Linked DNA regions of Homo sapiens: all the other regions are linked to region 1. The links come from fine-mapping of genetic effects on gene expression. A gene starts in region 1. Each other region holds a variant in brackets. All regions are shown on one strand. Distances are between the middles of the regions.

Region 1 (10,190 bases):
GCAAGAAGCGGGGGCACAGTCCTCAGCATGGAATCTTATTAAATTATTTCTCTTCTAACACCGCGTTTCCCTCTTCGGGCACATCCCACCTTCCAGCCACACTAACTATGACTATTCTCCATACACACCACAATAGATACTTTAGGGTTTCCATGCTGTTCTTTCTGCCTGTGATCCCCTTCCTCCCTACTCTCCTGGGAAGTTCAAACTCATCCCTTGAACAAGTCTGCAGGATAGTACTTACCTGGTAATAATAGTTGAATGTCTGGCCCGGGCACGGTGGCTCACACCTGTAATCCCAGCACTTTGGGAGGCCGAGACAGGTGGATCACAAGGTCAGGAGTTCTAGACCAGCCTGGCGAAGATGGTGAAACCCCGCCTCTACTAAAAATACAAAAATTAGCCGGGCGTGGGGGCGGGCGCCTGTAATCCCAGCTACTCGGGAGGCTGAGGCAGGAGAATTGCTTGAACCCGGGAGGCGGAGGTTGCAGTGAGCTAAGATCATGCCACTGCACTCTAGCCTGGCTGACAGAGCAAGACTCCATCTCAAAAAAAAAAGAAAAAACAAACAAACAAACAAATAGCTGAATGTCTGCCTCCCATAAAAGACTAGAAGCTAAATGTAACCTGACTCTGTAACCTCCACACAGAGCATGGCACCTGCCACAGGGTAGATGGTCTATTATTATTTGTTAAACGAAAAGATGAAAAGTCTTATAAAATACATTTAACGAAGCCTTTCACTCGTTGCTGCCTGCTACTCTCCATACGCCAATGTGACAGAGAAATGCTGAACACCTCTCAATGGCAAATACTCCATGTAGAGCGACCTCACCAACACTAAGCAGATTTTCCAAGGTGGCTGTATCCCCGAGGTGTGTCAGTGGCAGGGTGTCTAGAGCTCTCAGCCTTTTGGGTCTTATATCCCCCACCCCCAATGCAGTATGCTCCTCCTTTCTGAGAATCTCTAGCCAAAAAGACACCTTCATCTTGTTCACGGACCGTAAGGAAGGCCAGCCTCCTGCCTCTACTTCTGCCACCTGGCTTCCATCAAATTCATAAGACTTCATTCATGTCTCAGGATGACAGCATATATTCTCCACAGGATCGGTCTTCAATCGTTGGTGCTCAATGGCAAATGCGATGGTATTTTCCTGTTCCAATCTCTTACCCCTTGGCTGTACTGTGCCCAAGAGAATCAATCTATAAAGTCTTAATGTTAGAAATAAAGCTGTCTGCTGACCATTTTTCCTAGACCACAACAATAGCTCCCCTTCAACTACCTAAATGTGCACTACACGTATGGGTAAAGGGTCACAAATGCCGTCTACCAGACCCCAGAGTTCAAGGGAAAAGTAATAACTCAGGTGGGTTCACAGGTTTCAAACAGAGTCTAACTCTACATGCTGAACTGGGCCTTTTAGAATCCAGTGTGACCAACATCTTGGTGATATCTGCCTGTTTTTGTGACAGTATTCTAAACTAAGCAGGCTCTTCTTGGCCTCTACCTTGCATCTTTCCTGTCTCCCCGCTACTCCCACCTCTGGGATCAGCTTTGATAAGACTTAGCTACTTGGGTAAACCTAGGCAATGGGGCAGTCAGTGTTCTTCAGGGAAGTAGAATTATCTTCCAATTCTGCTGGAAGGGCTGTGGACATTAATGATTTCATACTATTAAAAGTGCAGACAGCGTCTGAGGTGGAAGTGCAACTACACCGTCAAATGTTATGTTAACATCTCTAAGTATACGGAATGTATTTTTAAGGGGAATTTTAAGTTTGATGGAGTCCACTGCAGAGACATTTTGAAGCCATGTGATTTTATGATGACTGCAGGGAATATGCAGTCAAAAACCAAACACCAAAAGTGTTGATTACAAACTGTTAGGGAACTTAAAGTTAGGATGGTCTAATATTCAAAGGATAGAGCCTTTTTGTAGTCCTTAAATACTTAGAGATTATAACTGAGTCTTTTCAGAATGTCACATAACATTTTGCAGTTAACTGGTTCTGAGTTGTCCAAATGACAATTTAGATGTGAGCAGGCCCATCCCTTAGGCACTCAGAATCCACTCACTAGTGCAAGCATGTACTAGATCCCAAAAAGTTCATCTCAGGAACCCTCAAGATAAACCACAGTCTCACGAACCCTCAACATAAACCACAGGCTCATGAACCCTCAAGATAAACCACAGTAACATGGGCCCTGGTGTTTTCTTCTTCGATGGTGGAAAAGATAACTAGTCCCCCCTAGTGTCCTGCTACTGTAGGTGGCTGAAGGATGGCGACACTACAGGACGCACCCTCCCTGCACTGTGCATCAACTTTAAAGCGCAGCTCAGGAACCCAGAAACAAAGGAAACCTTCGTCACAACCTTCCCAAGAGATGGAAGCACTTCCGAGACCTATGATGAGATGAAAAAAACCTTTCATTTCATTTCTAAGGCCCTTCCAGGTATGGTTTAAAAGCCAAAGGAATCTGCATTGGCTCACATCAAAAAGTTAATCCACACCCCAGCACACTTCATTAAGTGAAGCAGGAGGGCCCACACTTGTCAGCAGCTACTGCTCACTCCAGAGCAATCCGATCTTCCCGTTAAAAACCTCTCTCTCCTGCCAGGGGGATTTGATTCCTTTCCTCGCCACTCTTGAAAACCCACTAACCTCTAAATCTTGGTGATTTTTGCCTCTCTGTTCGAGTGAGTTTTCTTCCTGGTATGGAATTAACAGGGACAGGCTCGATAAATGTGTTCTCCACAAGCAATTTTCACTAAAGTACTCTTGAACAATAAAGGTACACTAAGAGATGTGTGAAATCTTAAAGCTGGCGTTTTTATTTCTTTTATTTTTACCCCTAGGGAGGACCAAGCGTGCCAGTGAGTAATTCATTCATGTCACCCATTTGTGAGGGATGGGAGAAGAAACAACCACCACTTGTTCCCTTCTTAATTTAGAAGCTTTCCTTATCTTAAGTCTATCAAAGCTGACTCCTGAGGTGGGAAGACAGGAGAAGTGAGAAGAAAAATTAACCCGAGGTGACTGCCTCCACGGAATGATAAGCACTTCAGGTCTCCACACCTGTGTCAGAGAAGAAAGGCATCTGCATGTCAGGGAGGCGGACGCCCCCACCTGCCACCCCCTCCGTTTCTCCCCTTGAAGGAAGCAGGAGCCTGATCTCCCCCCACTCCCTCCTCTCTCTCTCTCTCTGGGCACTTACATAAGACCCTGTAAAACTTCCAGTGACATTCACGAAAAATGTAAGCTGCTATTTTGCTCCCTCAGGAGATCATTTTAATGGACTGAGTGACAAAATTCACGGATTCTGAATTCAGCAGAAACCTGCTCAACCGAGGCACATCAGCACAGAGACGAAAAAAAAAAAAAAAAAGAGTCCAACCCCATTAAACAGGGTCACCCAAGGGATGGATTCAGTGTGCAAGAGACAATCTGTTCCCTCCGAAGTGACCCATTTAAAATCAGATTGTTCTGGGGGAAGCTCACAGGTTTAATAAATTTCAAACAGGCAAGGACAGGCTTGTACAACTGAGGTTCCTTAAGAGGAACATTTAAAAGAGGATAAGGCAATGAACAAAATAACTTGAGGATACACAAACTTTGGAGTCCTCACTCCAAAACTTCAAAAGCAGTGACATTTACAAGAATGTCTGGATAGCTATACACTGATCACTCCTCACAAGCAGCTTTGACTAACAGGAAGGACATGCTGGCTGGGCTTCCCCCCTACAGATAGCAATGCCAACCAACCACTCTGTCCTAAAGAGGGACTCGCAAGCTGTGGCTGCTCGCCCCCAAATTGCGCAGGACTGTCTGCAAGAAGGAACAAGAAAAGTTATTCACAGCATCACACCACGAAAGGTAGTTGCGTACCGCCCAACAGGGCCCTCTCCAAACACGGCAGGCTCCGCGAACCACAGGTGCTCACCGCTAACAAGAGGGCCGGGGGTGCGGGTATCGGTCACATGCCCTCGTGGTGTTAACCAGAAACTCCTCCTGGCTCGCTCCCTGCCAGCAGCCTGTGTGCCCAGAAGCCGAGCAGGCCCTGAGGGGGTCCTGGGGACTTCGGAGACTGGGGGCTTCCACCTCCAGCCTCTCCAGGGCTCCCGGCCGGGGCAGCAGAGGGTGTGCCCGGCCTCCCCGCCGGCATCCCGAGTACAGGGGGTACCAGCCACAGGTTCGGAGAACTTGTCCGGCGCTACACACCACGGCGCCCCCGCGGCGACTCTCGCGCTCCGGGGCTCTTACCTTGGCCGTGACTGCCGCCAGGCAGAGGGAGACACGGAAGAACAGGGTGGCGCGGCGGCGCCGCCGCCTACGAGGCGCAGGGGGTCCGGGTCAGGGTCCCGGCAGGCGCTGCCCTACTCGGAGCGGCGGTGCCAAGCACAGAGTTCGGGACTGCCCCCGGCTCCAAATGCCGCGGCGAGGGTCCGGGTCCCCCAAGCTGAGCACTGTCCCTTCTTCCTCTTCCTCCGGGGCCGCTGCCTGGAGCTGCTCCCGGCCCGGGGGACTCTTCCGAGCCAGGGGCGCCCCGCATGGGCAGGGGCCTGGGTCAGCCTCGGGTTGGGTCCAGGGAGCGACCGCCGGGGCCGACTCCACCTCCCGCGCTCCAAGCCGATTCGTCCCTTCAGGGCAGGGCCTGCCCGCGAACAGCCCGGCGAGACGAGCGCGGCCGCGCCCCCAGCTTCGGGCGCCCGGGCTCCGGCGCGGCGGCGGGGCAGGAGCAGACTGGCCGGGCCGGGCGCCGAACGCGGCGGCGCGGGGGGGGCTGCAACCGGCCGCGGCGCGCTCTCCCCCAGGGCCTGCGCCGCCCGCCCGCGGCTCCGCGGGAAAGAAGCGCCGGAAAAGGCCTCGCCCCGGCCTGGGGCGCGGGGCCGGGGGCGCGGGGCTAGGGGAGGCGCCCCGGGAAGGTCACGGGAGCGGAGGCGCGGCGAGTGGATCGCGGCGCGGTGGGTGCGGGGAGCCGAGGCGGGCGGCCCCCGCCGCCGGGAGCGCTCGCCGGCCTTGGCCGCCGCCGCCGCCTCCGAGATGCGCCGGCTTCCCGGAGCGCCCGGCGCTCGGAGCTGGGCGGCCGCTGCAGCCGCCGCGGGCAGCCGGGCGCCGCTGGCCGGAGCCGGCGCGCGATCCCCGCCTCCCGCGCCCGGCCAGGAGTGGGCCGCCGCGCGGGAACCGGCAGGGGCGGGCGCTGGGGTCCGGGCTCCGGGCTGGCCCCGCCGCCTCCGCGTGCCCAGAGCGCCGGACTCGCTCAGCAGCTGCAGTGACTGTGTGTCTGTGTCATGTCTGTGCAGCCGGGGGGGACCGCGAGCCGGGGCTGGGTTCCGAGCGGGGGCGGGGCCGGCGCCCGCGTCGGCGCCCGCCCCCGACCCCGTGACCGAGCGGCCGGCCAATGGCAAGCGCCGCAGCCGCGCGGACCGAGAGTTCGCCCCCGCACAGGCTCCGCCCCCCGGCGAGACTCCGCCCCGGTGCTTCTTCAGCTCGCTGGCTGGCAGGCAGGCGGAAGCAACACCCGGAGCCGGGATCCCGGGCCGGGTCGGGATGAAAGGGTGCAAGCTGGGAGCTCCCCGCCCTTCTTCCCCCAACCCCGGCGGCTCCCGGCCGCCTCGGGCTTGGCGTGCCTCGCGGAAAAAGGGGGAAGGGAAGCGGGACGGGCCCGCAGCTGCCGTGGTAGAGAGGCTCGCAGGCTTGCAGGACCATGCAGCCTGCTCCCCAAATTGCACAAAACAGCCGTCGTGAGAAGTAGGAAGTTTCCCCGCCTCGGGTCGCAGCTTCTCTCGGAGGTGGGCATGCTGTGGGGCAGCCGGAGTCTGTGAGGAGCCCCGCCGAAGGGCTCTGACGGCATCTTTCTGGGATCGGTATCCAAGAATCCTGTCCAAGGCTTCCTCTTCCTCTGAGGAAACTACATTTCTTTTTCCTCCACCCCAAACACACACCCCATGCACGCACAACACGCCCCTCCCCTGCTGATTTTATTCTCGCTCTTTCCCTCTTGGCATAAGAACCCGGCGCGCAACATCCCTTGAATGGACTTCCAGCCTCCCAGTTCTAGGGACCAGGGTGGGGGTACGGAGAGTCCTCCCGAGCCACAGGAGAAGTGGGTGAAATGGGTCGGGGCACAGGAGCGGGGGTGTGAGAATGGATGGAAGGAGGATGCCCTCGAGAGAAGACCCAGAGGAGGCGAAAGCAGAGAGGCAGGGAGAGAAAGAGGACGCCGAGAGCTGCACAACTCGGACTCGGAGACCGGAGCTCCGGGCGCGCGATCCAGCTCCCGGGTTTTTCCGCAGCTCGGTCCCAGGGCTTCTGGGGTCCCCTTCCCCCCGGGTCTCCACCTCTCCCCAGCCGGGCGGGCCGCCGGGTCTTTGCCTTCCCTCTGCGCGCCTCTCCGCTCTCCAGGACTCGAGCGAGGCAGCGGGAAGCCCACCCTAGTTCTTGGAAGGGGCAGGGGAAGGATGGGCTGGGGAGGGGGCGCGCGGGAAAGGGCCGCCGAGCTTGGGTTGCCCAGCTGACCCCACTCCTCGAGGTCGGGCTGGGGGGGTGGGGCGGCAAGGGCTTCGGAGGCTTGGCCCCTGCTTGGCTCCGGACCTGGCTCCCGCCTCGGTAACCACACTCTCGGCCTTTGGCTTTACCGAGCTGGGACCCTTCTCCCATCCCCCTTCCCTCCAGCCTCGTGAAACAACGACCCCCACCAGCAGCAGCAGCGCCCGCTTTGCCCCGGCTCCGGAGCGCTGTTTACCTAATCTCAGCGGCTGACCGAGCCCAGCAGAATGCGAAAGGGAGGCAGCGGTGGTACAGCAGCGTCCCCGGCGAAGAAGTAAAAGACGTTTGCTTTGGAGCTTCGGGATAAGTTAACTGCGAAGCTGGGGTCCTGCTGTCTTACCTCTGCGGCGATGAGCCTCACCGTGCACGTTGGCAGGCATAGCAGATTCTGTTTCTGATGCCATTACCGTGTCGGAGAAGAACATTATATGAAAAAATACTATCTAATATCCTAGAGACCATTAAAGTGTCAAAGTTTAATGCCAAGTCTTTTAGCTCGAAGGCTGCTCAGTTCTTCCTCTGACGTGCAGCTCTGTTCCAGAACGCGCTGAAAACAAGGGGATCATTTTTATTTTTTTGCCGCCCGAATGTCCTTCCTTCCTACTCTCTTCCTCCTCTCTCACCCCTACCCCCTCCCCGGAACCGGGTAAAGTTAAAGGGAGAATTTGTACTTTCTTTTTACGTTTTGCTTTGCTTCACTTCATTAGTGGTGTAAAATGCATTATTACAGCACATTAGCATATTAATAAAGGTAACGTGACTGAGGAAAGGAAAAGACCTGAAATTTACAAGCGAAGGAGAAATAGTTGAATAACATCAGAAACTAAAAGATAAGCTTCCGGGAAAGAAACATCTCCATTATAATGACTCAAGTGTAGTACATTCTCTAGATGGAATCTAAGAAAGAAAAATGTGACCATGGTGTGGGAGCTAGCAATGTTCACGCTGGTCAGTAAGGCACGTTGAAGACATAATGCCTTATTAGTGGATTTCACAAAGTGTACTTGCATTGGTCAATAAGCACCTTAAATGTGGAAAAGCTTTGTTTTATCAAATCAAGGTTGCAAGTGCCTGCAGTCAGTGGCATAGCTAATGCTCTAAATGATATTAATGTTGTCAGACTGAAATGTGCCACATACTGAGTCCTCTGGTTAGTACATCAAGCCCCAGGTTTAAAGTATTACGTTGGAAAATTGTAAAGCTCCTCAACTCCCCAGTCCAAGCAACTAAATATGTATATACATATACATGGAAACCCTGAAGTAGGATGTAGTTACCAGGAATTATAGCCTTTTGACACAACCAAGATACAAATGTCTTAAAAGGATTTCCGCTACGATATAGTATGAGAATGCAGAATAAAATATGTAAAGTGATATATCTGTTATTTGTAAAGAATGAGCGCAGCTTTTGCTGAGAACTGAAAAATGAAAAAAAAAAATGAGCTATCTAAACCAACTGTTATCTGTTTATCTCCACACAGTTATTGTACCTGTCACTGAAGAGATTCGGAAAGGTCTCTTATTTTTTATTAGGGTCAAGGAGACCGAATCCTAAGAAACCTGAGGTCTTAAAGCAGCCACTAGGGGGCCCTAAAGGCATCTCAAAGAGGAAGCCAGGAAACACTCTCACCTCCGTTTTTCTGTGTGCCTGATATTAGGAACTGGGGAATCTAAAGGCACGTTAAGAACACAGTGCACTGTAGTCCCAGCACTTTGGGAGGCTGAGGCGGGCGGATCACATGAAGTCAGAAGTTAGAGACCAGCCTGGCCAACATGGCGAAACCCCGACTCTACTAAAAATGGTAAAATGTTCCGGGCGTGTTGGTGGGCGCCTGTAATCCCAGCTACTCAGGAGGCTGAGGCAGGAGAATTGCTTCAACCGGGGAGGCGGAGGTTGCAGTGAGCCGAGATCGCACTCCAGCCTGGGCGACAAAAGCAAAACTCCATCTCAAAACAAACAAACAAAAACATAGTGCAAAGTTTGGAGGCAAATCTAGTTTTATGTAATAAATGACCTGAGTCCAATTTTGACTCCTAAGTCAATTTAGTTTCTCAACTCTTTTCTCACCTCCAAGAAAGGAAATATTGTATCCTTGAGAGGAGGGTTACCAAATACTCTTAACTGTCTCAAAGTCGGCACAATTATGTTTGCCATTCCAAACAGGACGTTCTTTCAAAGATTTGAGGACTGTTTTCTGAATGTTTTGCACATTCTTCAAGAGCTACATAACAAGACGATTGAATTCTCACAAAGAGGATATTTAAAAGATTAAGCAACCTGTACAGCAGGGCACCCACCTGCCAACTTAATTGAAGTCAAGCCAGCCACAGGGGCACTAGCATTAGAGCTGAGTCCTGAAGGCTTCTGCTAGGCCAGACATTTATTCTTTAGTGCTGGGTTCTGGTGAAATGGTGGTGTTGATGTTGGGAGGAAGGAGTGGTTCCTGCAGCAGGGGTGAGGAGACAGGGTATAGTGGGAATGGCAGCCAGTGGTAGTGGAGGGGTGATTACTCCAAGGGCTACTTAGCCAGTATGGAAGGATTGCAGTATCTTAATTAATGTTATATTTATCAAAACATCTAAATGTCGGGTCTGATCCTACAGAAAGCTGCCTAAAATTTTTAACTAGCAATTAAATTTTCATGGCTTCCAGATCCTTAGCAGTCACATAGTATTTTTTCCATATCTTACCAGTAGGTAAAGTTAAGATGTCCTTTATGAGAGTCAAGAATCAAACAGCATTCAGATAGCACAGGTTTGAAAAAGCCTAGTTTTCCTTAAACCAATGCTAGATAAATATCTGCCAAAGATGCTCTGTCCTGACACACTTCAAGCAAAAATTTAAGCACCGGGCATGAAACATTGCTCTTTTATTTAGGCCAATAATCAAAAGACATTGCTGAACAAAACAAATGTCTCCATCCGGGCTAAGCAAAGAAGAAATCACCTGTTAGGTAAAGAATGAAAAAACATTGCAAAAGCCACCAAATTAACACTAATGGAAGTGTGATTTGAACATAATTTAAGTAAAAACAAGCAAGTCCAGAATGGAGACATGAGACAGGGAATGGGGATAAAGTCTTTCTTTGTGGAATGAAACTATTTTATGCTGACATCATCATGTTCATTAACAGGCGAGATACAGGTATGCTCAAAATAGCATTATTAACCTCCAGAAGACTTGCCCCTGCAAAGCTGAGAGCCAGCTAATTAGAACAAATTTGGCTGTAGATAGAGAATCCCATTGTCTTTTAGGAGAGAGGGTTTATTCACTCGCCAGCTGTGAAAGTCCGTCAGAGTAGGACTTTGTCAGGTATTGGCTCTCTGACCACCTTATGATAAAATGCTGAACTGGGGAGTCAAAGCCCCTCTAGAGACAGAAAGAAAAAAATCAGTGCCAAAGAGGTCAACTCAAAGGACAAAGGGAGCTTTTCTTCTCAAGGAAAGGGGAGCTCAAGCTAGTGGGCCATAAGATCCTCAAGACAAAAATGAAAACAAAAAATTTAAACATTGGTAAAAGCACCAGAGTCCTGAAATGAAACATTATGACATATACCTTTTGGAGCTCTTTAGTGTGAAGCCCTGTTTAAAGGGTGTGTTTTTATCAGTTTCTGTTTTCTCCTCCCTCTGTTTAAAAGAG
Region 2 (10,190 bases), 700 kb before region 1:
AGATCATACCACTTCACTCCAGCCTGGGTGAAAGAGCAAAACTCCATCTCAAAAGAAAAAAATTATTCATCTGTTTCTAAAATTGAGATTTCTAATTCAGCTGGAATTGGTATTTATTTAGTGGAAGGAAAGGATCCAATTTTATTTTTTTCCATATAGATAATCAGTTGTCTCGATGCCTTTTACAGAATACTCCTTCCTTCCTGCATTGTTCTTCAATACTAGCTCTGTCACGTGCTAAATGTCCATATGTGCCTGGGTCTAGTTCTCTTTTTATTCTGCACCATTGTTCTGTTTGCCAGTTCCTGCACTAATAATACCACATGCTATGGTCTGAATGTGCCCTCCCCCACAAATTCTTGTGCCAAATCAACAGTGTTGGGAGGTGGGACCTAGTGAGAGCTATCCCACTCTCTTGAGTGGATTAAAAAGGGCTTGGGGGGCTGGGCGTGGTGGCTCACGCCTGTAATCCCAGCACTTAGGGAGGCCGAGGCAGGTAGATCACAAGGTCAGGAGATCGAGACCATCCTGGCTAACACAGTGAAACCCCATCTCTACTGCAAATACAAAAAAATAAGCCAGGCTTGGTGGCGGGTGCCTGTAGTCCCAGCTACTTGGGAGACTGAGGCAGAAGAATGGTGTGAACCCAGGAGGCGGAGCTTGCAGTGGGCGACAGCGTGACACTCCATCTCAAAAAAAAAAAAAAAGAAAAGAAAAGAAAATAGGGACAGTAAGACAAGGATTGTAGAAAGCAAAACAAAAACAAACAAGAATTAATGATCATTTCACCATGGAGGGCAACAGAGTAAAGCCCCAGTGATACTCTCTTGAGATACCATGTAGCACATGACCCCACACTGTCCCACAGAGGAGCTATCCCATCTGCTGGGTAAAGCCCTCAGGCAGAAAAGAAGAAAGATACATGCAGGAGACTGCAGTGGGAAGCCAGCATAGGGCTTGGACATGTGGGAGCTAGAGGCAAACTCAGGTAAGGCAAGGAAAATGGAGCATTTGCTGCAGGTGCTCAGTCTCATTAATAGGAAAACGTAGATGAAAACAACAATAAGCATTTCACCCTTCTAAGATTGGCAAAAGTTAAAACGTCGGACAGTACTTAGGGTTGGCAAGAATGTGGAACAATGGGGACTCTTTCATGAAGGCTAATCAACAAGGATGGATAGAACTGGACAAGACTTTTCTATGCAAATGAAGCTCTCCCACATGTACACAATATTCATAGCATCATACAAAAGAATCTGGAAGCAACCTAAATATCTATCAACAGTAGAGTGAATAAATAAATTATGATAGGTAGTTAACAATATCTAACAGCAAAAAAAAAAAAAAAATAACGAGCAGTAGTTCTCCAGGACTGATAGCATTGGCATCGTCTAGGAACTTATGATAAATATTCATTCTCAGGTCCTTACGTAGTCCAACTGCAGAAACTCTGGGGGTTGAGCTCAGCAATCTGTGTATTACCAAGCCCTCCAGGCAATTTTAGTGCACACTAAAGTTTGAGAACCACTGAAGTTGAGCTATGGCAGCACAGATTAGTCTCCCAAACATAATGTGGGGCAGAAAGTCAGGTGCATGATAATACATTCATATGACACCATTATAGAAAATGTTTAAATATTCACTATATTATTATATTGCCCATGAATGCATACATGTGAAGTAGTAAAATGAAACAGAAATGCATGGGAACGATAAATACTAAGTTCAGGCTGATGGTTGCCTCTGGGAGGGAAATGAATAGGATATATAGTTTGCAGGAGTATACAGAGGACTTCAACTATATTGATAATATGGTATTCCTTAAATAATTTACTGTATTATTCCTTATAATAGGAATAATGGTTTAAAAAACATATAACATGAAATTTACCATCTTAACCAGGATCTCACTGTGTTGCCCAGGCTGGTCTTGAACTCCTGGCCTCAAGTGATCCTCCCCTACTTAGCCTTTCAAAGTGCTGGTATTACAGGTGTGAGCCACTGCAACTGGCCTTATCATAACTTTTTTTTTCTTTTTTTTTTAGATGGAGTCTCACTCTGTCGCCCAGGCTGGAGTGGAGTGGTACAATCTTGGCTCACTGTAGCCTCTGCCTCCCAGGTTCAAGTGATTCTCCTGCCTCAGCCTCCCAAGCAGCTGGGATTACAGGTGCCTGCCACCATGCCCAGCTAATCTGTGTATTTTTAGTAGAGGTGGGATTTCATCATGTTGGCCAGGCTTGTCTCGAAGTCCTAACCTCAGGAGATCCTCCCACCTCGGCCTCCCAAAGTGCTGGGATTACAGGCATGAGCCACCATGCTGGGCCCCATAACTTCTTAATTATCTTCTTGAATACTTCATTTTTCTGACATTTAAGTCACCATCACTCACCTATATATTCCAACCATATTAAACATCCTCTGCATATTTTTTGTCCTTTCTCTCTGCCATGCCTATATGCATACCATTGTTTTTGCTTGGAATGCCCTTATCTCATACCTTGCATGCACAAATACTATTCATCCTCCAAAACCCAGTTCATAGGTCAATTCTTTGAAGTCTTCCCTGATTTCAGTATTTGCAAGTGGTCTCTTCCCTCTTCCAAATCCCCATAACACTCTAGCTTCTCCTTTTTCGTGGTACTCACATCTGACTACCTTGTTGTCTGTACATGCCATGATCTCCTTGGGACAGAATTCATAACTAAGAGCTAAAATGTATTGGGTGCCTACTGTGTGCCAGGCACTGTACATATAGTACTATATTTATTTGCTCATATGATCCTTTTATCAACCTGATGAGGTAGGCAGTGTTAGCTCCATTTTACAGATAAGGACAGTGAGATTTAGAGACTCAGCCAAGTTTACACAATGTGGCAGAGAAGGCTGTGGTCTGGCAAAATGTATTGTTTCATTGCCATAATATAGAGTGGTTGCATGGAAGCGGAACCTAACATGACTATTCCCCAGCCACCTGGCATCCAGGCAGGACCTGTGACTAGTTCTCAGCAATAGAATCCAAGTGGAAGTGATGTGTGTCCATTCCAAGTGAAGGTATTTAAGAATCAGTTGTGCCTTTCCCCACTTCCGCCTTTATCTGCTATCTGGATGCAGAGAACTCTAAGGAGCCCACCGTAAAGAAAGGCTCTTGAATCTCTCTGACTACACCAATCAACCAGGAATATCCACCTGGAAGCACCACCTACATGAGAAACAAATGTATTGAGGCACTGAAATTGGGGAGTTTATACAGCAGCTGGCATTATCTTAACTAATTCAAACAGCTACCAAGGGGTGGAACTAGGCTTCAGACTGAGAAAAGCTTATTTTAGAGGCTGTGATTGGTATGAATCCATATCTATAAGATCAGAAGCCTGCACTTTTCACCACGAAGCCAGTGTCTCTCATCGTGTCAGTCAAAGGTCATTTCTACAAGGATTACAAAGCTGCCTGTAAAACATGTAGACATGGGACCTCACTCCAGATTTTCCAAATTAAAATCTTTGGTATTTGTGACAAAAATCTGCCTTGTTAACAATCTTCCCAGGAGAACCTGGTGTACGCTAAATATTGAGAAACTTTTCTATGAATGATATTGTCTCCTTCCTAATATTCAGCACAGTGTTTTACAGAGAATAGGAGATCAGGCAGCATTGCATAGGTGAATGAACAAAAGTGTGAGCCAATAGGGCATTTCTGTGGAAAGGGACCCCAAACTTTCCATCTCTTCTGGATCCTAAATCCAGTGCTGATTCCTTAAATCCTATTGGACAGCATCCCTCAGGATTCATTCTTGAGTCAGAAAGGTGTTCAACCATTGCCAGAAGTGACCCTCTACTATTCATGATGCTGAAGCCTCACTTTGAAGCTGCCAGAACTCAGACGCCATGCCTGGTGGATTTATTGCCCAGCCTGCCCACGGAGCAGGTAATTAGTTTGAAATGGAGAGCAACAATGAAGGTCAAACTCCCCCACTGTCACAAGGGACAGTTTGTTCCCAACAATTTCTCTCATAAAGGACCTGGAATCCTCCCCTCACACAGCCTTAGTCCTGAGAAGAGAGAAAAAAAGAAAAGAAAAGAAAAATACTTTCTCATAAAAGTCCACTCTAACCTTGATTTTTGTTGTAGCATTCTACAAGGGCTGATAACTGCTGGGATAATACAACGGATGGTGAATTTGATTCAATCCTGAATTCCGCTGCAGAGGGCTCCTGTGAGAACCGCTAACCTATCTTAATGGAAGAGGACAAAGAAAGGTCACCTTTGGATTTGTGAGGTCACGCACAGCTCAGGAGGAATGAAATTTACTGAGTTTGCTGCCAGCTCAAGCCATTTTCTCAAAATGACCATCTCTCTAGGGAGAGATATTATGCTCATACTGTTAGAAGCTCGGAGGCTAGGTAATAAAACAATATATGTTTGCTGTTTTGTCAGCTTTGGTTTTTGCTTTAGCAGTTGTTTAAAACGTGAAAAAAATCAAAGAAGAACAGAAAAATAAACAAGCAAAAAGACTAAAGACAGAGGGAAATGGAGAGTCAGCATACGAGGGGGAAAGAGCAGAGTGAATATAGAGACAGATAAAAGAACAGGGTGGAGTGAAAGGGGAAAAAAATAGATTCTACCTCCCTCCTTTTTCATTTGAAGAAAGCTTGTACGTCAGCTTTTCACTTTCCTGATCCATAAAAATTGTCAGTGACCCTGTTTCTTCTCTCCTCTGAGCCTGGAACAGGTATTGAGGGATAATCTTAGAAAGTTTTAAATTGCCTGAGCACGGCGCTGAAGCTGCCCATTGACTACTGGGAGTCTGGTGTGTTCAACAGAGGATGCAGCACAGAAAAGGAATCAATCTCTGAATCTTGTACCTTTATCAGCCCATGCTGGCTGCCCTCCTCCCTCTCCTACCATCTCCTGGAAGAGCTTTCAGCTGAATCCTTCATGTGCACTCTCTCGGATAAACAGTTGCATGTAATCCCTTGCTATGCAGGGGACAGAGATTCGGCCTTGCATGGTTAGAGCAAGGATTCTGGGCTCTGATTTCCCCATTCCTCCCTCTCTTTCTCACTCCCACAGGAATGAGGCCCTGAGAAACTGGAAGGTCAGGGAAGATTCCTGTGGGACCCCCACAGGAAGATTCCTGGGTTTCCCCCTCAGCACACCCTCCCCAGACACACCTGACGGCAAAAGCAGACATCCTCCTATCATTAAGAAACTTATAAAATTATAATGTCCTTCTATCTTCAGCTTAATACCTTGCCGTTGTTAAAAAGAGAGAGAGAGAGAGAGGGAATAACACAAAGGAATTAAGCAAAAGGCTATTTCCACACACGATTCTGATTACAAATTTAGTGCTGTGTACATCTCTAGCAAGGTCAATTACAAACATCGAGGGGAAATGCCTGTGCCGGTTTTTTTCCGTATCTCAATTCTCTCTCTCCTGCCAATCCTGATATTCTTCTGCAAGGGACCACCTGCTGAGTAAAGGTTGGGACATAGTTTTAAGTCAAAAATTTTGCTGCTTCTTAGCATTAAAAAGATGCAAGTTATTTAAAACTGGGTATACATCTTCAAGGTCACTATTCTGGAATTTAAAAATCAAGCAAATGTTGAGTCATCAAAGGAAATTTGCATTTATTTCAATAACTGAGGAAAAACGACTAGAAAAAATGTAACCCAGCTTTTAGATGGATATCTCCTTACCCCCAAAAGATGGATTTATATCGGCTTATACCTCTCCCCAGTCCATGGCCTGTGGAAGTCCAAAGCTCTTTTCTTGTGTTTTTGAAAATTCTTGGAATCTTCCTTTTCCATTCCC[G/A]CCTCTACTTCCTGGATACTGACTCATTGTGGACTGCCTCTTTTCTGGGCTTTGGGTTGACCCAGATATGAAACTTCCTGAAACCTCCACTCACCAAATAGGAACCAGCCCCACCAATCATCTGTGAACACTAAAGTCTTTACTAAAGATTTTAAAAGGGAAAGGAGGTTTATATGACAGCAATAAGAACACCACAGTCCTCCCCCTTCTTAAAATATCTATGGGCGGGCTACATATCAACTAAACATTTTCACTGGCCCCTCAGCTTGTTCCACTTAATTCTGCTGGCTCTTTGCCATTTTTCTCCCTCCCTCTCTTTTCCTTCCTACCTCTTTCTGGAGCATTAAAATGTAATTTCTCTCTATTTCCACTAAAGCCTTAGCTCTAGCCAGCATGTGGGTTGGGTGACAAGGGAAGGACTCACCAAGGAATCATTTCGAACACGATACTTAAAATACATCTAAGAAAAAAGAAAAAGGGCAGAGAAGTTGGTGGTCACCACTGCGTAGGACCTTTCTGTGCCTCCAGGGTGCTGCACCTGAGTGCTCCAACAGGAGAGACAGCCAGGGTTAGGGGTGAGGGGTCTAGAAGGGAGGGTTACCAGCATGAGCCTGGGGTCTGCACTGCTGAGAAAGAAGGGCCTTGGGGGAGAGCATTTATCCTCCATTCTTCATGTTTTCATATTGCAGCATGTTGAATGGTGCCCCCCCACAAAAAATATGTCTATATCCTAATTCCCAAAATGTGCAAATGTGACCTTCTTTGGAGAAAAGGTCTTTGCAATGTAATTAAGTTAAGGACCTCGAGATGACATTATCCTCGATTATCCGGGTAAGCTCTCAGTCCAATAGCAAGTGATGTTGTAAGAGTCGGAAGAGGAGACTCACACACAGGAGGAGAAGACCATGTGAAGACAGAGGCAGAAACTGGAATGAGCAGCCACAAGCCCAGGAACCCTAGAGCCACCAGAAACTGGAAGAGGCAAGGAGTAGAGCCTTCAAGGGGATCATGGTCTTGCCCACACTTTGATTTGGGACTTTTGGCCTCCAGACTGCAATAGAATAAATACCTGTTGGTTTTGGCACCTGGTTTTTTGGCAATTTGTTACCGCAACCCTAGGGTACCTCATTCACACCTAGAGGGGCCTCCATTTGAGTAATGTTCCTGGACTTTTTCCCCAGAGGGAGCAACATGACTTAAACTACAGAGTTGCAGGCCCCCCCAGTCTCCCCTAAATGGGGTCTGCCTACCTGCACCCTTTTTCTCACCTGCTCGCTTACGTGTTGTAAAGAGCCTGCCCCTATCAGGGGAGACGCATGGGTGTGAAGTTGTGCCAGCAGCTGGATGAATAAACGTGCCTTATTCAGGGTTAGTTAGCAAGATCGCTTTCCAACAGGCTGACCCACTTTACTCCAGTATCATTCATAATAACGGTGATAGTTTCATCTCTATCTGCCTGATTCTTTGGCCTCTCAGGTGGAGAAAGTAGACTGTTATTCGTTCGCTTCCTAAAGCCTTGAAATAAGTCAAAGGGGCAAGGCAGAAGCTTGAGCAGAAAATGAGCCAAGAATTTGATGGTAGGCAACATCCAGATTTAAAAAAACCGTGATACCTCACGTGGTGCCTGCCAATTGGGCATTTCAGGGATTGGCCTGTGCATTTGCTATAGGCACCTTTTCTTCAAGATACTTTACTTCCATCTACTAGAAAATGGTTATAGTAGGCTGATTGGGATAGAACCAGAGAGTTTACTTTCATCTGCCTGGAATCGCCACAATTCAGGTGCAAGCAATGCCTAAGATGAGAATGACGCCCTCCAGTGTTGTGTGGTGCCCAATCTGTCCTGTGGTCAGTAAGTGATGGTTCTTATACCATATTAGGGAAAAAGGTGATACTCATATGCCACATTTCTCTCTCCCTCGTTCAACAGAAGCAGCCCTCATGCAATTCAGCCCCTCAGAGGTCACCTACTGGATTAGGCTTGCATGTCAATGACTCGGTTTAGACTCAAGGAACCGTACTTGTTATACACTTATCTAAAAATGTCAAGTTCTGCCTGGACCAGCCTTTGACATTATCTTACTTTAGGTCTGGTACCAGACCCTTCCGCTTAGAGTCACAAAGCACCTGGCCCTGCAGCTTGTTTTTGCTATAGGACAGTCAGTCAATCCCAAACAATTCACAAATGCTCACCCAGCCCCACCATTGGTCGGCATCCTCGTATGCTCACAGCCACCTCTATGCCCCCAGCTCTGCAACAGCCTAGCACAGTGAGGGGCACATAGAAAGTGCTCAGGATGGGCGCGGTGGCTCACGCTTGTAATCCCAGAACTTTGGGAGGCCGAGACTGGCAGATCAGGAGATCGAGACCATCCTAGCTAATGCAGTGAAATCCAAAAATTAGCTGGGCGTGGTGGTGGGCACCTGTTGTTCCAGCTACTCGGGAGGCTGAGGCAGGAGAATGGTGTGAACCTGGGAGGCAGAGCTTGCAGTGAGCCGAGATCGCGCCACTGCACTCCAGCCTGGGTGACAGAGCAAGACTCTGTCTCAAAAGAAAAAGAAAAGAAAAAAGAAAAAAAAAGAAGGTGCTCAAAAAGTGCTGGATAAATGCCCTGTATGACTAGACAGCTCAGCTTCCTCCCTGAGTCAAATTTGCCTACATGGTATTTGTTCATAGATTGCCTTCATGACTTTTTCCATACCCATATTGTGCCAGCGCTATTATCTCCTTTAAATTGACTCACTTTTTGCCTCAAGTGATTTGAGTAAAAAACCTAACCTAAGGAGAAGCTCTATATTCTAAGAGAAAACAGGTGTCTTTCTACTACAGTAAAGTGTTCAGTCCAAGTACCATGGAAAACCATATCATCTATTACCTGTTGTGCACATATCACACTTTGAGTAGTGTGGGCCTAGGACTCGGGTCCACCGTGACCTAAACCGAGATCCAACAAGCTCCCTGGTGCCAGCTGAATAATGCATCTCATCCCAACCTGCATGCCTTGTCAAAGGCAGCACAGAGTGTCACACTTGTTAGCAACAGGACAAAAAGATGCTGGTGTCTAGAAGAACAAGGAGAGGCAGGACACAGGCTCACAGGATGTCAGCCCCTGTCAGAAGAAGACAGAGCCAGGCCTGTCAGCCAGAGGAACTGAATCAGAACAATTATTCAAAGTCATTTGTTTGGAGGACAAGGGAAAAGAGATTGATTTTTCTTCTTTTGCAGGAAATGCTTAGGTGAGCACAGACCCTGCTGGGTAGGCAAGCACCTGCCAGGTCGCTGACTGGAAACCCAGGTAATTCTATACTCCACATTTTCTGGATGAAGGTTCCTCTGGCATGGGCTGTCAGGGATGTCAAATGGCTCATTGAGAAAGCCTCTGCTCAGCATGCCAACAGAAGACACTGCTTTTCCACATCTACTCTGATGTCAGGGAAGAGGTGTCCCTGGGTGCTACAGCCGTGGGCATGATAGAGACCAACCAGGAGAGGCAAGGTAGGACGGTCTGCTTGGCAAAGCGGTTGAGGCTGTTCTGGGCCTGGGAGCAGGACACAAGGAAGCCACTGCCCTCTCGGCACTAGTTCTGGGTGCCTTGGGAGGACCTTAGTTCACAAAGGATACAAAAGAAAAGTAAGGAGATCAATGATTGAGCATTTACAATGTGCTGGGCACTGTGCTAGCTGCTTTAAGAATAAACATTGGATGCCCATATTCTACAGATGTTCAGAGTTAAGTCTTTATTTTTAAATAATCAGATAATATAAGCACTCATCCTACAGCTTGCTGGAAGGCCAGGGCATTTTCCAGGCATTTCTCTTTTTTTCTTTTTATTTCTTTATTTTCTTTCTTTTTTTAAACTTTTATCTTAGGTTCAGGGGTACATGTGCAGGTTTGTTATACAGGTAAACTTGTGTCATGGGGGTTTGGTGTACAGATCATTTTATCACCCAGGTACTAAGCATAGTACCCAATAGTTATTTTTTTTCTGACCTTCGCCCTCCACCCTCAACTAGGCCCCACTGTCTGTTGTTCCCCTCTATGTGTCTATGTGTTCTCATCATTTAGCTCTCACTTATAAATGATAACATGTGGTATTCTATTTTCTGTTCCTGAATTAGTTTGCTAAGGATAATGGCCTCCAGCTCCATCTATGTTCCTGCAAAAGACATAATCTTATTCTCTTTAATGGCTGCATAGTATTCTATGGTGTATATGTACCACATTTTCTTTATCCAGTCTACCATTGATGGGCATCTAGGTTGATTTCATGTCTTCACTATGGTAAATAGTGCTGCAATAAACATTTGCATGCATGAGTCTTTATGGTAGAATTTACATTCCTTTGGGTATATACCCAGTGATGGGACTGGTACATTGA
Region 3 (10,190 bases), 360 kb before region 1:
CTAAGGCATGCAGGGGTCCAAGGTGACACGTACTCAGCAGTCACACCCGTTCTAAGTGCAGTACAGCCTCCTGGGTCAGTGGACAGAGCACAGACTCCAAAGCCGTATGGATTGGGGTTCAGTTTCACTATGTAATAGCTCTCTGAGCATGAAAAGTAATTTAATCTCTCTTGAGCCCAGTTTATTTAACTTTTTTTTTTTTTTTGAGACAGAGTCTTGCTCTGTCACCCAGGCTGGAGTGCAGTGGCGCCATCTCGGCTTACTGCAAGCTCTGCCTCCCAGGTTCACGCCATTCTCCTGCCTCAGCCTCCCGAGTAGCTGGGACTACAGGCGTCCGCCACCACGCCCAGCTAATTTTTTGTATTTTTAGTAGAAATGGGGTTTCACCGTGTTAGCCAGGATGGTTTCGATCTCCTGACCTCGTGATCTGCCGGGCTCGGCCTCCCAAAGTGCTGGGATTACAGGCGTGAGCCATCAGTTTATTTAACTTTCAAGTGTGCAAAGCTTCTAGCTCAGTGCCTAGAACCTAAGACGTGCTTAAGAAATGGTAGTTAGCTTTCCCTCTGTTTTACAAACACTCATTTAGCCACCTGCCTCCTCACCAGCTCCACCATTGTAATGGTGTGTTGAATTTGCGCCTTCCATTGAAGAACCAGGGGCTGCCCCAGGCTGGTTTTCTCTGGTACGCCAGGGAGAGGACAAGGTCAGGCTCCCAGTGGCAGAGTAGTTGGTAGTCAGACAGGTGTAAACTGAACACAGGTCAGACAAGAGCTGCAAGGACATCTGCCTATGAAAATAAGTTTCCCATGTGAGGGACCCCTGCCAGGTATACCAGAAGTATCTCGTGAGAAGCATACCATACCCATGTCCAGCTCCCCTGAATGTTCTGTTAGGACAGGGCTGCTAGCCACTCTGGTACTAGCACCCCGGTGTAGCTACGGGCTCACCAAACAGTCTTATTCTTGCAACAGTCCCAACAGTAAGCTATTTGGCACCTAGAAGGAGCTCAGTAAATATTGACCGAATGGGTGGCTCCTGACCCTGGCCAATAATGGTATGTCTGATTCTTTCTGCTAAGAATTGGTGGTTCTGAAAATCTTCCAGCTGTTGGTGCAGGCTGGGTAAAGGTGCAAACCGCTGACATAGGAGGGAGGTATCTGCTACTTAGCTGAAGTCGAGCTCAGGGAAGATGGGGACATCTCTAAGAGGCTTCTTCTGGTAGAGGCTGAGGATGGGTCTAACTCCTGAAAAAGGCTTCTTTGTAATTCTCCCGGTAATGAATTTAGGAACAAGGGGCTTTCACAGCGCCACAAAGGAATCAAGCGCAATCTGACCAAGAGCCACTGCAGCCCCAGACAACCAGCTGTTCTCAAAAAGTGAAAAATTAGCCAGGCCACATTGTATCAACATCACTCCAACCGTTTACAGTGAAGGATGTCAACGACAATTGCCTTTATGAAGGACACTCTCTCTTGGATCAGAACATTCTACATTTATGCGCCTGACTTAACAGGCTTTCTTCCTATTCCATGACCTGGCTTCTAATAGTTTGGTTTAGAAAAACAATCACACACATACAAAAGTGATACAAAATAGGGACATATGGAGAAGAGATGAGCTTTACTTATTTTCTTTTCACCTCTGTATTTTTCCAGAAAAATTAGGGTGGGCATGGGAAAACTTCTGATGTTTTGTACTCCTTTGCTGGTGATAGATAAAAACGCAATGCACTCTGCCTTGTTTCTGAGTTCCTTGAAGGCAGGTGCTGTGTTCTCAACAGCTTTAGGGAACAACAGCATCTAATCTATTCCTCTTCACAGTGGGGGCCTAACAAATGCTAGAAATAAACCAACAAAAGAATGAACAAATAAAATGCAGCCCATTAACTCAGCTCCTTGCATTCAAATTTACCTTGTCCCTGTCCTGACCTTGGCCCATATACCCTACTCAACCCCAGGAGCTGCCTTGAATCTGAGAGTCCTCCAAATCAAGTCCTTGGGCCAGCTATGGGAGCAGCAAGAGCTCTGGTGCCTTCCCTTCCACGGATGATATCAGCGTATTTAAAATAACCATGACAATTCACGTTGTTATTGGCTACAGAGCGCCACTAGCACTATAGCCATTGCAAGCTGCAAGAGAATAAACGTGATTTCCTAGCTACAGCTCTACAATCTCTGATGACCTGTTCTGGTGACTATGGTGGTTATACTTATCCAACGGAGACTTACAGCTCTAAATATATGCTGTGGGTTGAGTTTCTTTGGAAAAAGACCCCGAGATGGATGTCAGCATACAAGAGGTTTATTAGAGAGAGCTCTTGAGAACAGCACCTATGAAAGGGAAGGGGAGAAAGCAGGACTAGGCAGAGGGGAAAATCAGCCTGTGAGGCAGTATCCGAGTGTGGCAGATGATCCTGCAGGACCTCATGTTCATCAGCCATTCCGTGATGTGGGGTGTCCCACGAAGGGGTGTGGCCACAGGCATGGCCACTCACTTCAACAGAGGCAACTGCAAAAAGGGCTGATGCCTTTTCTGAGAGCCCCCGCTGCAGGGACTGCTCCCACCAGCTGGCGTAATAAGGCCTTTATTCCCAAAGGAAAATGTGGGAGTCTAGTACATACGACCACCATTCTCATCTGATGAGACAGAGCACAATTAGGAGCTCCTCCGTGACACCTTCCCAGCTACCTTCTCTAACCCCCTCTAGGAGAGGTGACAACTCTCACTGTCCCCTCATTACTCATCTCCTCATTTGCAGAGCCCGTCACACTGCTTCACACCCAGTAGGGATTCGATAAACGCCAGTTGAAGAAATGCATCACTGAACACTCAACATCAGCATAAGAAAATGAATAAAACACCATGTAATTATAGAAAAACTGCCCCTCGTGAGTTCACTGTGATCAGGAAGAGAAAAACAAACAGACACGATAGGGGAACTTGAAAAGAGCAGCGGATGGAAGCCAAGACACGGGCACTCTGATCTCAACTCTGGGAAAAGCCTGCATCCCTCTAAGCTTCCGTTTCTTTCTTTATGAAACAAAAGGACACGTCCACACGTTCTATGAAGATTAGAGAGCTGTGCCATACTCAATTTCAACAGCTGTCCTAAATGATGTCATTGTTAGTGTCATTATTGACACGAATAAGAAAAGTAAATTTTGATCCTGATAAGGGAAAGAGTCCCGGGGATCAAAATGTCATTCCCATGATTTGGTGAAGACTTTCCTCAATTAGCCCAGAGCTCAGAAGCCCTGAGAAGGAAGCAGGGAGTGACCAGGGCAAGCAAGGAAATTTACTCTCTGTTCATGAATAGAAACAGAAACCAACAGGAATATCCTGTGATTTATGAAAATGCTGGGATTTAAAATCATTAAGTAGTATTTTGCTTTCATAGGATATGGAGCTAAGAGGAATGGCAGAAGGGATTTTAAACACAGAAGGGGCTAGCGTGCAATTAAAAAAATATATAAAACTAAAAATTTCACTGTCGAATTTCTTTCTCATTGTACTCATCCAGTATAGAAGAATTTTTAAAATAATATAATTTTTAAAAAGACATCTGGGAGAGGGGTATTAAAATAACAGCCTAAGATTTGTGCTAACCTGCCACTTCTCTCACATATCCATGCCACAGTTAGTACACCTACTGAGCTCACAATTTCCCCCTAGGTACTCTCATATACCTTGAGGCCGTGACGAGAGTTACAATAATAGCTATAAAGAAACCCACCAGACTAGAAAGAACGTCTTGTAAAGAAAGCCAAATACATACATCTCCTTAAAATGATAAACCACAACGTTAATGAAAGCAAAAGCCATATGAACATTTTCAAAAACTCTAGAATCAATACTCATCTCTACTACCTCACAGGCTTTCTTGGCAATTAGACTATCCTTCGATAAAAAGAAAACCAATGAACACACGTCCCGACCAGTATGTGAACACTCCGCTATCTGCATACAAAATACACACATTTGATATTTATCTGTTAAAAACATCTTCATTTACTAAAGACATGTAAACAAGTTTCTGTTTTACTCTATTATTTTTCAAATCCAAGCAGAGTTGATATTGAACCATATTTGTAATTCCTCACCCACTGCATTAGCACGACCTCATTCGAGGAGACCTCACCTTTTTAAAAAAGTCAACCCCTATTCTTGGCATGCTGATACCTACAAGGATATCGGGGAAAAAACGAATGGGCTACCATTACCTTTGAACTTGTGGAACACAGCCCACAGCTCTGCAATGTCAGTGGCAAAGGTGATATCCGTGTCAAGGACGATGACTCTCTCCAGGTTGGCAGGAAGAGTCTTGGTCAGGACAAGCTTCATCAGACCATAAATCCCAGAGTAATGTTTATTGGGGATCCAGGAAACTTCAGACTAGACAGAACAAGGCAGAGAGAGAGTTGGAGAAAGGGAAAAAAAATTGCTATATTAATTCTTTGCTTAAACATTATAAATAGTGCCTAGCACACAAAAAGTATCCAATAAAAATTTGTTGAATAAATGAATGAGTTTTCTTTTAAAGATTTATATAATTTGCATTTTGACATGTGAAGTTTTCTGGAGGAAAATGTATCTGAATTAAGGGAGAGGAAAAGTAATAGTTATGAAATAATTATTACTGCAAATCCTATGTTGAGATTTTTAAATAAAACTTTTGTTATTATAGAAATTAAATAGATCCACTAGAGAAAAAAAGGATATGCAAAAACATAAAGGTCCAAAAATTGAATCCCACTACAAATACTTTTGCAACCAGTATCAAATTGTTCCTATGTACGTATATTTCTTTAAATCATATTCCATTTACGTGTCATTAAAGATTAGTGGGCAGTAGTATTGTTAAAGCTTATGCTTATTCTTTTAAAACTGTAATTGAATAGATTACTACTGCTGCCTTCTCTTTATTCTCAGATAAATAAGAGGACCTAGTCATCACGCGACACTCTTCACCTGACAGCAATAGAGGACACACACATAGGACAGAAGGAGGACCTAGTCATCACGTGACACTCTTCACCTCCTAGTCAAGGAGGACCTAGTCATCACGCGACACTCTTCACCTGACAGCAATAGAGGACACACACATAGGACAGAAATGAACCACCCATGGAGCACTGACATTATGATCCTCACATAACATAATGGAACAATCAATGGCTTGCAGGTGGGCAGAGTCATCAGCGAGGTACACACACGGGTGCCATTTTGTGTCCAAAGGCAAGGATAAAAATAAAAGCACCAGTGTGATGAAAGCTCTCATCTATGCACAGTCATTTATGAAGATCA[C/T]TGTGGGCAGAGGCCCCAACCTAGCTGCCATGGGGAGTTTCCATGGGAGCCAAAGCACACTTATTTTCAAGAGGGTAACACTTTTAATAGAACCCTTTAAAACAGGGAACATGGCCACCTTCTCAGGATTCCAAAAAATATTGATCTCCTTTGACCTTACAAATACCATGTTGAGGAGATGTTCTTAAAAAAATTCAAATTTAAAAATTTTGTTTTAGACACCAAAGTTTTATTCCCAAAGATGTTCATCACCATGTTACCAAAGAACAGCCATCAAAATGCCCCAAAATGGAACAATTAATTCAAACATGATACTCTTGTTTTTCTGATAGCATACTATGTAATTGTTTAAAACAATGTGGATCAAGATATAATTTCTAAAAACCTGCATATGATGTTAAAGGGGAAAAAAGCAAGCTTTAAAACTGCTTTTACTTAAAAACAACTACGTGTAATCAAACCAAATGAAACACATTCACCCAAATCTATGCAAAGGAAGAAAAAAATAGCAGCAAGACATCAAACTGTGTGCGGAGCTGGCTCCTTCCGGGGGGTTCTTGGTCTCGCTGACTTCAAGAGTGAAGCTGTGGACCTTTGTGGTGAGTATCACAGCTCTTAAAGGTGGCGCAGACCCAAAGAGTGAGCAGCAGCAAGATTTACTGTGAAGAGCGAAAGAACAAAGCTTCCACAGCTTGGAAGGGAAGCCGAGAGGGATGCCGCTGCTGGCTGGGGTGGCCAGCTTTTATTCCCTTATTTCTCCCTGCCCACATCCTGCTGATTGGTCCATTTTACAGAGCACTGATTGGTCATTTTACAGAGTGCTGATTGGTCCATTTTATAAAGTGCTGATTGGTGTGTGTTTACAATCCTTTAGCTAGACACAGAGCACTGATGGTACATTTTTACAGAGTGCTAACTGATGCATTTACAATCCTTTCGCTAGACATAAAAGTTCTCCAAGTCCCCATTTGACCCAGGAAGTCCAGCTGGCTTCACCTCTCATCAATTTCAAAAAAAGCATCCCCAACTCTGTGTATGAGTCCCTGTCACCCTACACCCAGGCATCATGGAGGTGGGGAAAAAGGACAGAAGTTCAAATCTGGGCTCTAGCCCCACACAAAGCATTTGATCTCTCTAAGCCTTGGTTTCTTTACCTGTAAAATGGAGTGTGTTTCAGAGATGGAATGGGTCTCATGAGTCAGCATGGGGAACCTGTCTCATAGCTGCCCTAAATTGGCCTCCTGTGTGCCACCATCACTAGACTATGATGTTAGAAAAAAATGTGGTTACTTAGTTTTTTTTTAAGAGTAGTTGCTCATTTTTAAAAGTTGGTAAAATGGAGACGATGCCTACTTCACACAGTGGTATAAAAATTAAATTATATTAAAGGACTCAAGGGCGTGGTACACAAAATATACTCAGTAATAAGCTCCCGCCCTTCTTCCTGATCCCTCTATCTTATTCCATGTATTTAGCTATCAGTGCCTCTTTTGGTGCTTCCAGATGAAGGTAAGGGTCTGTGGGATGTATGCAGGAGAGCAAAACACCCTGGGTGGTAGATTCAGGCATGCCTGGATTTAGATTCTAGTATCATCACTTAATCGCCATGTCACCTTGGACAGGTTTGCTCAGCTTTTCTGAGTTTCTGCTATTTATAAAGGTCATGATTTCTTTTTTAAAAAATTTTTAATTTTAGATTCTGGGGGTACACACGCATTTTTGTTACATGGGTACACTGTGTAATGGTGGAGACTGGACTTCCAGTATACCTGTCACCTGAATGTTGAACACTGTATCCAGCAGGCAATTTCTCACCCCTCACACAGCTCTCACCCTCCCCTCTTTTGGAGACCCCAGTGTCTATTATTTCCAGCTTTGTATCCAGGTATGCCCGTTGTTTAGCTTCCATCTGTAAGTGAGAACATGTGATATTTGATTTTCTGCTTCTGAGTTAGTTCACTTAGGATAATGGCCTCCAGCTCCATCCATGTTGCTACACTTACTTCATCCTATCAGGCAGTGTGTGGGTGGAAACAGCACACTCTCCTGGGGAATCTAAGGAAGATTTAATAAAAGGACTATTTAATCTAAGTATATGCAGAATTAGGGGCAGTAACAAGAACCGTGCAGTTACTTGAGGAGGGGAAGAGTACTTGGGGCCATTACCACCCCAAGGCCAAAAGGGCCCAGGCCAGCAGATGCTGGAATCCAGAGAGAATTGCTGTTTGAGTAAGGCCACCTGGCTGAGGCAGTGACCTTCAGCAGAGGGACACAGCCTACCTGTGGCAACGCATAAGCCAGAACAGGAAAAAACATCTCAACCTCACTTCCCTCCTGCCCACCAGTCTCCCGGGAGGGCAGCCCTCCAGTCAACCCTAACGGAAACCAGAGCGAAAGCGAGACTAGAGATGCTTTATGCATCAGCCTCATGGAGCATAAAGTGAGGGTTACGGCAAGAGAGGACCTAGAAGGAAAAACCTCACACAACCGAGTCATACAGTTAACACAAGGGCAAATTAAATGAACAACAACAAAATCAAAGCACAATGCCCTGGCTGGGCGCAGTGGCTCACGCCTGTAATCCCAGAACTTTAGGAGGCTGAGGTGGGCGGATCCCCTGAGGTTGGGAGTTCGAGACCAGCCTGAACAACAGGGAGAAATGCCATCTCTACTAAAAATACAAAATTAGCCGGGTGTGGTGGTGCATGTCTGTAATCCCAGCTACTCGGGAGGCTGAGGCAGGAGAATCACTTGAACCTAGGAAGCGGAAGTTGCGGTGAGCAGAGATCGCACCATTGCACTCCAGCCTGGGCAACAAAAGCGAAACTCAGTCTCAAAAAAAAAAAAAAAAAAATAAGCACAATGCCTTGTATATAATAGGTACAAAACACATATCTGGAACAGATGGATGGATGGATGGATGAATGCATGGATGGATGGATGGATGGATGGATGATGGATGGCAGGCAGGCATAGGAAGGCGGGCGATTTGTCTACAATCCCACAGCCAGCAAGATGCAAAGCTCTAAGAGTCAGAATTTGCCAGGAGAAGGTTTGTGTTCTTTCCCCAAACTACATTATCCTTCCTTTAGAGTGAGCCATCACCGTTAAGATCCGAGGACTCAGTGAGGAATTCCCTCCCATGTGCTTTATAAACATCTTCCTCATGAAAGCCCTGGCCTTTGGAGCTCAGCTCAGCTTCCTCTCTCCTCTAGCAATCTGCCTGAACTGAGGCTTGGCAATCATTAGTCCATGCTGCAGAGCTGTGCTATTTAATCAGACCTTTGATTAACTTATTCATCTATTTTGGTTACCATCAAAGCAGGAGAGCTGGGTGAAGACTGAACACGAGAGTGATGGGTTAAGCTGTCTAATTAGATTGCCCTGACTCTCCGTTTTATTTTTAACACACATGTGAGGCACTCAGTTACACTGCAAAACAGGAAGACTACAGGAATAAATTAATCTCAACATGAGCCCAGTCCTGAATGTCACTCCAAGTCCCCAACTTAATACATAATCAATTAAGTCCAAGTGTTCAATTAGTTGTAAAGGAGGCAATGGGATGAGTTTGTATTCAGAAAGAAAGCCCCAGGAAAAGGTGGAAAATTAAGAAATTTGGTGGTGGGGAAAGAACAAGTGGTAAGAAGCAGGTACATTTATTACAAATAGCTCACCCTCTTAGAGACGGCATGATATCTAGCACTCTTCCCCCACCTCCATCCACATTCTCCCCCTCTTTCAAGTCTCAACTTAGAAATCACTGCCTTCCAGCCACCCCCACCCCCACAGCCCCAGGCTGGATTAGGGGCTCCCAAAGCAAGAAGCAAGCTGTTTCCCTTCCTCCAGCACAGCATGTTATCCTGCTGGGTTCAATTTTCCATGCCCCTCTCCTGCACTTGACTGAAACTCCTTGAGGCAGGGACGATGTCTTTTTGACTGTGGTAACAACACAGTAATTATTCAAAAACTGTTTGATGAATGTGCATGACTACGGAGTCAGCCAGGCCTGAGTTCATTTTTCTCTGATATTTTCCTCACCTAGGAGCAGAAGTGTTCATGATTGCTAAAATCCAGGGTCAGGACAGAACAACAGAAGAGGCATAGTTTGTTGAGCCCTGAAGCCTGGGCTATAGAACTGGTTCTACTTTTAATGAGCTGTGTGACCTCAGGTAACTCACTTAACCTCCTTGAGTCTTAGTTTTCTCATCTGGAAAATGGGGGCCTACAATGTTATAGTATTCACAGGAGAAGGCACAGCATCCAGCCTCATGCGGGGCAAGCAACAGGTCTCCTCTAAGCCCACTTCTCCTCTCAGTGAATGCCTGTCAGCAATACCGAAGTTCAGATGACTCAGAATTTGGGGCATGATAAAAGCAGCAAATTCTGGTACCTTTGAAAGTAAAGGGGAAGTCAGGAATGCAGATGGTTTTGTCAGGGGAAATAAGTCACTTGTCACCTTGTCCTATGTTTCTGTAAAAAATGAGGCAGGCGGATCATGAGGTCAAGATATCGAGACCACCCTGGCCAACATGGTGAAACCCTGTCTCTACTAAAAATACAAAAATTAGTTGGGCATGGTGACGTGCTCCTGCAGTCCCAGCTACTCGGGAGGCTGAGGCAGGAGAATCGCTTGAACCCAGGAGGGAGAGGTTGCAGTGAGCCAAGGTAGCACCACTGCACTCCAGCCTGGCAATGGAGCGAGACTCCATTTCAAAAAAAAAAAAAAAAAAAAAAAATCACAAGCTGAAATCTGGAAAATGCAAAGTCCCTCCCTCTGGTAGATCTCCAAAACTGGACAGCACACTTTGGGTTTGAGGAGGAGGAAAAGTGCGTGGGAGTGATTAGCCATGCAACCTTTTGGGGCAGTCTCTCCATGCAATCCA

Which allele goes with the higher level. Alleles are on the strand shown, and positions count from the first base shown. SD is a standard deviation of normalised expression in the study named. Not every link is listed here.
With allele T in place of C in region 3, the expression in atrial appendage of the gene that starts at base 4,744 in region 1 is lower (small effect, 0.23 SD a copy in GTEx).

Evidence for each region. PIP is the estimated chance that this variant, and not a neighbour inherited with it, causes the effect. A credible set is the group of variants that fine-mapping cannot tell apart.
Region 2: its variant is the best candidate, but not a certain one, in a credible set for the expression of LARGE1 in whole blood (TOPMed, PIP 0.74).
Region 3: its variant is the best candidate, but not a certain one, in a credible set for the expression of LARGE1 in atrial appendage (GTEx, PIP 0.80).

What each region holds. Positions count from the first base shown.
Region 1 is chr22:33,915,733-33,925,922 of GRCh38, forward strand. It overlaps LARGE1 (LARGE xylosyl- and glucuronyltransferase 1), which reads right to left and starts at 4,744. Exons shown (of 15, transcript NM_133642.5): 1 at 4,263-4,744. It overlaps LARGE1-AS1 (LARGE1 antisense RNA 1), which reads left to right and starts at 5,493. Exons shown (of 2, transcript XR_001755630.2): 1 at 5,493-5,791; 2 at 6,675-7,323. RefSeq lists silencers at 4,272-4,371, 4,642-4,791, 5,112-5,611.
Region 2 is chr22:33,215,906-33,226,095 of GRCh38, forward strand. LOC124905106 (a long non-coding RNA gene) reads right to left here and starts at 5,880. Exons shown (of 2, transcript XR_007068071.1): 1 at 5,697-5,880. It also overlaps a transcript of LARGE1 not described here. The variant G/A (reference allele first, on the strand shown) is at 5,812.
Region 3 is chr22:33,560,628-33,570,817 of GRCh38, forward strand. It overlaps LARGE1 (LARGE xylosyl- and glucuronyltransferase 1), which reads right to left. Exons shown (of 15, transcript NM_133642.5): 6 at 4,221-4,392. Among named protein-coding and RNA genes, the nearest start is that of MIR4764, 130 kb to the left of the region's middle. RefSeq lists an enhancer at 5,333-5,402 and a silencer at 9,016-9,310. The variant C/T (reference allele first, on the strand shown) is at 5,305.